Regions from separate parts of the Homo sapiens genome. Here region 1 is linked to region 2. Evidence: fine-mapped expression QTL. A gene starts in region 2. The other region holds a variant in brackets. All regions are shown on one strand. Distances are between the middles of the regions. Region 1 overlaps LOC124903701 (a long non-coding RNA gene). Region 2 holds the start of TPPP3 (tubulin polymerization promoting protein family member 3).

Region 1 (4,385 bases), 120 kb after region 2:
ACTAGCTTGGCCAACATGGCAAAACCCCATCTCTACTAAAAATACAAAAACTAGCCAGATGTGGTGGCACATGCCTGTAATCCCAGCTACTTGAGAGGCTGAGGCAAGAGAATCACATGAACCTGGAAAGCAGGGGTTCCAGTGAGGCAAGATCACACCACTGCACTCCAGCCTGGGTGACAAAGCGAGACTCTGTCTCAAAAATAAATAAATAAATAAAAAGGAGGGGAGGGCTCTGGGCCTCACTGGGTCTAGTGACAACAGACCCACAGTCATTCACCTTGCACACCCCTCTTCAGTACTACCCCAAATACTGAGGGCAACAAATACCCCAGAACTTCCAGACCTCTCTTGCCTTTGGCCTAAATAAACTCCAAACTCCTTGGTATGACAGTCAAGGCCACTTAGAGGCATCACAGCCTTCCCATCTACCTCCCAGACTGGCCTGGAAAACAAATCTGATTACTAGTCTAGTCTCACACTGGCTCCTCTTCCTGAAGGCCCATGCCCATCTCCCCTAATCAAAATCCTTCCTCATTTGAGGCCTGGGTGCAGCATCTCCTTCACGAAGACTACCCCAGCCAAGTTCTCTCAGCTCAGGCCACCCTGCCCAGTCACATGGCAAGGACCCATGGATGAGCGCTTGACGCACTTGCTCTCCTGCATCCAAGTCACCTGCCTGCCTCCCTGTCAAACCCACCATGTTCATCTGCCCCCACCACTGCAACCTCCATCTCCTGGGCTCAAGTGATTCTCCTGCCTCAGCCTCCAGAGTAGCTGGGATTACAGGCATGCACCACCATGCCCAGCTAGTTTTTGTATTTTCAGTAGAGATGGAGTTTCAGCATGTTGGCCAGGCTGATCTCAAACTCCTGACCTCAAGGGATCCACCCGCCTTGGCCTACCAAAGTGCTGGGATTACAACCATGAGCCACCGCACCCGGCCCGACAAATAATGACATTTATGATCCCTTACCTTGAGCCAGGCCCTGGGTAGATTCTTCCCATTAAATTTTGTCATTTAATCCTGACAGCAGCCTTATGAAGTGAGTATGATTATCTCATTTGAGAGATGAGGACACTGAGGCTCAGAGAGAGCATGTAACACACCCAGAATGACACTTGTGAGTGACAGCTGGGGCTGTTGACTCTAAACTGTTGACTACGGCCGGGCGCAGTGGCTCATGCCTGTAATCCCAGCACTTTGGGAGGCCGAGGCGGGTGGATCACCTGAGGTCAGAAGTTCGAGACCAGCCTGGCCAACATAGCAAAACCCTGTCTCTACTAAAAATACAAAAAATTAGCCGGGCATGGTGGTGGGCACCTGTAATTCCAACTACTTGGGAGGCTGAAGCAGGAGAATTGCTTGAACCTGGGAGGCAGAGGTTATGAGCCAAGATCATACCATTGCACTCCAGCCTGAGTGACCTGACTGAGACTGTCTCAAAAAGAGTAAAAAATAAAAATTAAAAAAATAAACTGTTGACGACTAGTTAACTACGAGGCCTTATCACTGTGGCCTGTAAACAACCTAAGGGCAAAGCCCAAGTCACTCTTCCTTCTCATCACACCTTCCCTGCGCATAATGCAGAAAAAGTAAAGGTAAGTTGGCTAAAAGTATAACCTTCCAAGTGTGTCAAAAGTCCTTCAGATCCAGACAGCCAGAAAGTAGGTTAGTTATTACCTAGGGCTGAGGAGGGCCAGGGATGAGGACTGACTGCTAATGAGTACAGGGTTTTTTGGGGGATGATGAAAATGTTCTAAACTTAGATTGTGGTAAGGGCTGCACAACCCTATGGGTATATTCAAAACACTGAACTGTACACTTAAAATGGGTGAATTTTTATGGTATGTGACTTATATCTCAAATATATCTCAGCTACTCAGGAAGGCTGAGGTGGGAGAATCAGGAGAATAGCTTGAACCCAGAAGGCAGCGGTTGCAGTGAGCCGAGATTGCACCATTGCACTCCAGCCTGGGCAACAAGAGCGAAACTCCATCTCAAAAAAAAGAAAAAAAAAAAAAAAGAAATCCCTAGATAAGAGCAGTCCCAAATCCAATTCCCCTGGTGTCTAAAGGACTTAAAACAAAAACAAAAACTTTGGCCCAGCACAGTGGCTCACGCCTGTAATCCCAGCACTGTGGGAGGCCGAGGCAGGTGGATCACCTAAGGTCAAGAGTTCAAGACCAGCCTGGCCAACATGGTGAAACCCCATCTCTACTAAAAATAACAAAAATTAGCCAGGCATGGTGGCGCTCACCTGTAATCCCACCTACTCGGGAGGCTGAGGCAGGAGAATGGCTGGAACCCGGGAGGCAGAGGTTGCAGTGAGCCGAGATCGCACCACTGCACTCTAGTCAGTGCAGTGCAGTATATGTGTGTGTATATATATATATATATGTGTATATATATGTGTATATATGTATATATATGTGTGTATATATGTATATATGTGTGTATATATGTATATGTGTGTGTATGTGTGTGTATATATGTGTATATATGTGTGTGTATATATGTGTATATGTGTGTGTATATGTGTATATATGTGTGTATATGTGTATATACATGTGTGTGTATATATATGCGTATATATATGCGTGTGTATATATGTGTGTGTATGTGTGTGTGTGT[A/G]TATATATATATATGGGGTTTTTTTGGTGTGTGTGTGTGTGTGTGTGTGTGTGTGTGTGTGTGTGTGTTTTGAGATGGAGTCTTGCTCTGTCACCCAGACTAGAGTGCAGTGGTGCGATCTTGGCTCACTGAAACCTCCGCCTCCCGGGTTGAAGCTATTCTTGTGCCTCAGCCTCCTGGGTAGCTGGGACTAAAGTTGCGAGTCATCACGCCCAGCTAATTTTTTGGATTTTTGGTAGAGACAGGGTCTTGCTATGCTGCCCGGGCTAGTCTTGAACTCCTGGCCTTAAGCGAACCGCCTGCCTTGGCCTCCCAAAGTGCTGGGATTATAGGTATGAGCCACTGTGCCCAGCTCTCAAAGATTTTTTTTTTTTAAGATGGAGTCTCTCTCTGCCCCCCAGGCTGGAGTACAGTGGCACGATCTCAGCTCACTGCAACCTCTGCCTCCCGGGTTCCAGCCATTCTCCTGCCTCAGCCTCCCGAGTAGGTGGGATTACAGGTGAGCGCCACCATGCCTGGCTAATTTTTGTTATTTTTAGTAGAGATGGGGTTTCACCATGTTGGCCAGGCTGGTCTTGAACTCTTGACCTTAGGTGATCCACCTGCCTCGGCCTCCCACAGTGCTGGGATTACAGGCGTGAGCCACTGTGCTGGGCCAAAGTTTTTGTTTTTGTTTTAAGTCCTTTAGACACCAGGGGAATTGGATTTGGGACTGCTCTTATCTAGGGATTTCTTTTTTTTCTTTTTTTTTCTTTTTTTTGAGATGGAGTTTTGCTCTTGTTGCCCAGGCTGGAGTGCAATGGTGCAATCTCGGCTCACTGCAACCGCTGCCTTCTGGGTTCAAGCTATTCTCCTGAGTTCAGGTGATTCTCCCACCTCAGCCTTCCTGAGTAGCTGGGATTACAGGCGTGTGTCACCACACCCAGCTAATTTTGTATTTTTAGTAGAGACTGGGTTTCTCCATGTTGGTCAGGCTGGTCTCGAACTCCCAACCTCAGGTGATCCACTCACCTTGGCCTCCCAAAATGCTGGGATTACAGGCATGAGCCACTGTGCCCGGCCATCTAGGGATTTCTATTCATGTTTCTGGACCCCACACTATCTGATTTGCATCATAAACACTCAGAGATGGCCAGGTGAGGTGGCTCACACCTGTAATTCCAACACTTGAGGAGGTCAAAGCAGGAGGATTATTTGAGGTCAGGAGTTCAAGAACAGCCTGAGCAACATTGTGAGGCCCTACCTCCAGGAAAAAAAAATATATATATTATATAATATATATAATATATATTATATAATATATAATTATATAATATTATATATTTATTATATATAATATATATTATATATTATATATTTATTATATATAATATATATTATATATATTATATATTATATTAATATATAATATATAATATATATTATTATATATATTATATATAATTATATATATATATGCCAGGCACAGTGGCTTACACCTGTAATCCCAGCACTTCGGGAGGCTGAGGCAGGCAGATCACTTGAGGTCAGGAGTTCGAGACCAGCCTGGCCAACGTGGTGAAACTCTGTCTCTACTAAAAATACAAAAAATTAGCCAGGCATGGTGGCATGTGCCTCTAGTCCCAGCTACTCAGGAGACTGAGGCAGAATTGCTTGAACCCAAGAGGCAGAGGTTGCAGTAAGCCGAGATCATGCCACTGTACTCTAGCCTGGGTGACAGAGTGAGATCCTGTTTCTAAAAATAAATAAA
Region 2 (4,385 bases):
TATGCGCCCAGAGCCCCCTGGCCAGGCCGGGCCAGCAGCAGTGAATGCCAAGTGAGTGCAACCTGGGCATGTGCCACTGGGCATCTCCAGTTAGCATGGCAGGGCCATCGAGGCAGGAGAAGGGGGTAGGCTAAGGTCGGGGCATGGGTCAGGCCCTTCTCTGAGCTAACAGGAAGGGAAGCTTCTCTCAGCACCTCCAGTGGGGAGGGATTTGGGGAACAGGCCCCAGGCTTACCCTCCTGCTTCCCCCTCAGTCCCTCCCAGTTTCTTGCCACCCGTGGCCAAGCGGAACCTCCACCACCCTCTTCCCCAGACACTCTCGCCCTGCCTCCCCGGATCCGACCCCAGGTAGGAGGGACTGTGCTGGGCCTCCGGTCCAGGTGGAGTGGGATAGAAAGAAGCCTCTACCCTGGCGCTCGCCTCTGCTTCTTTTGGCGATGTGGGGCCCTCAGGCTCCCCCGTGTCTCTGCAGAAAAAGAGGAAGAGGCGCGTGTATAAAGTGCGAACGTCTGAGACCTCGGATCCGGCGTCGGGTGAGCGCCTCTCCCTGTCCGGGTCCTGCTCTGGGAACTCGAGGGAGGGGAAGGCAGAGCCACAAGCGAGCCGCAGCCACTGGGCTCATGTTCCCTTCCCTTGCGCAGGGCCTAGGGCCCCCAGCCGCCGCTCCAGCTCGTCGACGGATTCCGCGGACGCCAGCCCTGTGCACGCCGCTGGCCCTGCCGGCGCCTACCACTCGGCGTCGGCAGAGTCCGTGGACGAGATTCCAGTGGCGCAGACGCGCCTGGGCAGCGCCGCTCTGGCCGCCCCGCGGGGCCGGGGCCGACAGCCCACGCTGGCGCGGCAGGCGCGTGCGCCCGCCGTTTTCGTGAGCCCGAGCAGCGGCGAGCCCAGGGCGCCGGGCGGCCGGGAGGCTGGTCTGGCTTAGCTGGGCCGAGAGGCCGGAGGGCCGAGTTAGAGCGGCCGGCCTGACTCTCTATGCAACACCCCATCCTTGCCGCACCGAGTGCACTTTAGGGGCCCCTACGGCCGGCGGGATCGGCCTCCCTCCCCCACGACTCAGCAATACCCGCCCCACCGGCTGTGATGCTCCAATAAACTTTTTTATGCTTTTGCGGACGTCGCGCTTACTTTCTTAATGGCAGGGGCCACGGGCCATCCAGAAGCCCGACCCTGGCCAGTGGACCGGGGGCGGGGAGGAGGTCCCTGTATAGTAGGTAGCCACCCAGGCTGCCCTGTGGAGGTGCTCACGTGCGGCTCGTGGTTAGGAAAGGCCTTAGAAGGCGGCCTGGAGGAGGTTATTTTTCTTAAAGATGGGCTTTGCACTGGGAGGCCGAGAGAAAGCAGGCTTTGGGCTCCGAAAGCAGCAGTGGGCGCTGAGGCTGCGAGGCCGTGGGGAGGTGGCGGCGAAAGGAGGGGGCCGAGCCAGGAGGTCCCGCAGCTTTTCCCCGGCAGCAGGGCTGCCGTCGAATGCCAGCATCCTGGGGCTGGGCGAGCGCGATTCGCTCGTAGGGAGTCCCCTCCCTTCTTCCCCACTGCTCCAGGCTCTGAATCCTACCCAAGAGAGCACGGGAGTTGTGGCCTGGGGGTGCCATCCGTTCAGTGGATGGCAGTGCTCTTGAGTCAACCGTATACCCCTGTCACTGAGGGAGAGCTCCTTCCCGATTCCCCAAGCCCCACCAATGCCCCGCGCAGCTCCCCAGTGGCCTCTGGTTGACTCTCTGGGGAGCTGGATCTCTTCTGGAGATTGGGGCCGCTTAGAGCTTTAGGCACATCCCAGGATGGGAGGCTGTTTCCTCAGGGGGCCGTCCGAAGACGCCCCGAACTGCAGAGCGCTGGTCTCGCCGTCGCGAGGACCGCGGAGTTGCGGGGGAGGGGCGGGATGCGGCTCCCGGAGAGTCTCGGGGAGGGCGGGGCCTCGTGGGCGGGGCCGGCGTGACCTTGGTCACTCTCCCGCCGAGACAGCCTCGGGGGTGGGACTCGCCGTCTCTATGGAGACCGAGAAACAGGGGATAATACGGCGGAGCCGCCTGGGCTGCAGTCCCACCCGGGAGCCGGCAGGGAGCGGAGCTGCGGAGCCGCCTGGTCTCCCGCGTCCATCGGTCCATTCCTGCGTCGTTCTGTCCTTCCGAACGCACACTTCAGGAGCAGCCGCGAGGTAGAAGCCCATAGGAGACCCAGATGCCCGCCACCCCAATCAGTATCCTGCACGATGAGGGTTGGGGGGAGCAGCCTGGAAAGGGTCCCAACCTCCGGCGGTCCCAGCCGAGGAGCCAGCTGAGCGGCCCTGCCCTGGCCCCAAGCATTCCACCTCGCAGCCCCCACCTCCTGGTCCGGCTGATTGATGACTCCAGCTGTCCCAGTGGGAGCGGGACGGGTGGCTCCAGTTCACGGGTGTGGCCACTCCATCCATGGCCTGCAGACCCATGGGGCTGCGGCCTGCAACCCAGCGCCACCTGACCGCGCTGAGATGACCAAGAATCCATCTTTCCACGGACAGGAGTGAGCACTGCACGCAGGATCCGCCCAGTGCTTGGGCCAAGCACCCTGTGGCATCCAAGCTCCCCTGGACGTTACCCTTGGTGAACCAAGTGCGGGTCTTGGGGTCCCTGGTGGGAGGTTGCACCCAGGGAAAGGGAAGGGGAGTGCAGCGTGGACTGGGGTTATGGTCCCTGTAACGTAGGAACCACCGGTGCTCACAGTCCCAGAAACTGCCACTTAGGGATGGGAGTGTGGTCACTGGCGAGGAGTTTTTGGTGGAAGATGGGGCAGCCGGGCAGAGCCCAGGCCGTGGTCACTGGAAGCCCTAGTGTAAAAGGCAGAGCTAGAAGATGGTTGCTGAGACCGAGGGTGTGGTCAGGAGGTGGCAGTGGAGGAGGGGGATGTGGTGGGGAGGTCTCTACGCAGGGGATCTCCGCATAGTACCTGGGAGTCTTATAATGTTAGTGTGTGGATGTGGACTGGGGCCTTCAGTGCAGGCTGAGGGTGTGGCCAGAGGGCTGAGGGTGTGTGGACAAAGGGGTGCTGAGGGTCAGGGCGCCTTGATAAAGGGCTGCGGGTATTGGAGGGGGTGAGTGGCTGAGGCTATGGTCAGGGGTCTCAGGAAGGGATGCAGGTTTGTGGCCAGGGGCCTCAGCCCCAGGGCTGCGGGTGTGGGGATGGAGAAGGCTGCTGTGTAGGCTCAGGGTGTGGCCAGGGGTCTGCAGCGGAGGGCTGTGGGTGTGGGGGGCACTTTAGTGCTGGACTGTGGGTATTACTGGGGTTGGCGCAGGCTTGTTAGTATATATGTGGGGGCTGGTGGCCGAGGGCTGTGGCTGTGGGTGTGAAGATGGAGGATGGAGGGCTGAAGGTATGGCCAGGGGTACAAGGCCCAGGGGGTGGCAGGCCAGGGCTGAGTGCACAGGGTCGCTGGGAATGTGGGCTGGTGTGGCCAAGTTCAGGGCGTGGCCAGGGGAGGTCTGAGGTGTAGACATGATGAAGTGTGTTTCAGCCACAGCCCCACTTGCCAGCACGACTCTTGGGGTTCGTAACTCTACAGCCCCCACGCTACTAGCCCCCAACCTCCTGCTCCCCCAAAACTCCACAGTGGGAGGTTACAGCACCAGTCGGTGGCAAGGGGCCAGGAAGCCACGGTTATGCCCTAGGCGCAGGGAGTGCTGGCGTGCCCCACCCGTGGGCCCCAGCTTCCCAGCCCAGCCCAGCCCCTCAGCACTGGGAGCTTCTCCCTGAGCTGCCCTGACACCATCCTGCCCTTAGCAACATTCTCCAAGCAGCACCACCCTCCCTTAGCAACCGTCTCCAGGCTTCACAAACTGTGGCCAGGCCAGCCCCAAGCTCCCCTCATGTTTTTGTTTAACAGCAAATAGTAACAAGGCCTTGCTGGACCAGCTGCACCCCTGCCCAGGGCATGCACCCGTGCCCAGACTGGCTCTTGCTGGGTCCTCATGACCCTTACAGAGATGCTGTCCTCACTGAATGCCTGCCCGACCAGCAGCCTGGCCTGGCCCCAAGCCAGCTTGGCATGGAGCTTCCAGGGAGGGGGCCTGCTCTGCCACCCTCACTTCCACCCAAGCAAGGCCTTGTGCCAGGGCCAGACAAAGCCAGGGCCCCAGCTGCTGCCCTAACAGTCTTTCTGGACAGTGCCACTCTGTTCCCTGTGGGCATCATTATTTCATCTGCTGAACCCTGCTGAGAGCCAGGGCTGGCATTAGTGACAAGACCGTGCCTCCCGGGGCTCTTCCTTGGGGCTCTGTGGCCCAGGGCGACAGTGACGGGCCCCTCTCCCCAGGCAGCTCCAGCACCAACTCTGTAGCAGAACCTGCCCAGGTCTTGCAGGTTTGAGGTAGAGGCTGGGATGTTCTGGGCTTGGGGGAGGGGAAGGGCAGATT

What was found. PIP is the estimated chance that this variant, and not a neighbour inherited with it, causes the effect.
Region 1: its variant is the best candidate, but not a certain one, in a credible set for the expression of TPPP3 in whole blood (INTERVAL, PIP 0.76).

What each region holds. Positions count from the first base shown.
Region 1 is chr16:67,272,836-67,277,220 of GRCh38, reverse strand. The region is part of intron 2 of LOC124903701 (a long non-coding RNA gene); the gene reads left to right. Among named protein-coding and RNA genes, the nearest start is that of PLEKHG4, 4.5 kb to the left of the region's middle. The variant A/G (reference allele first, on the strand shown) is at 2,636.
Region 2 is chr16:67,391,150-67,395,534 of GRCh38, reverse strand. It overlaps TPPP3 (tubulin polymerization promoting protein family member 3), which reads left to right and starts at 2,037. Exons shown (of 4, transcript NM_015964.4): 1 at 2,037-2,155. It overlaps ZDHHC1 (zDHHC palmitoyltransferase 1), which reads left to right. Exons shown (of 12, transcript NM_001323627.2): 9 at 1-51; 10 at 255-348; 11 at 473-533; 12 at 642-1,383. The coding sequence ends at 925.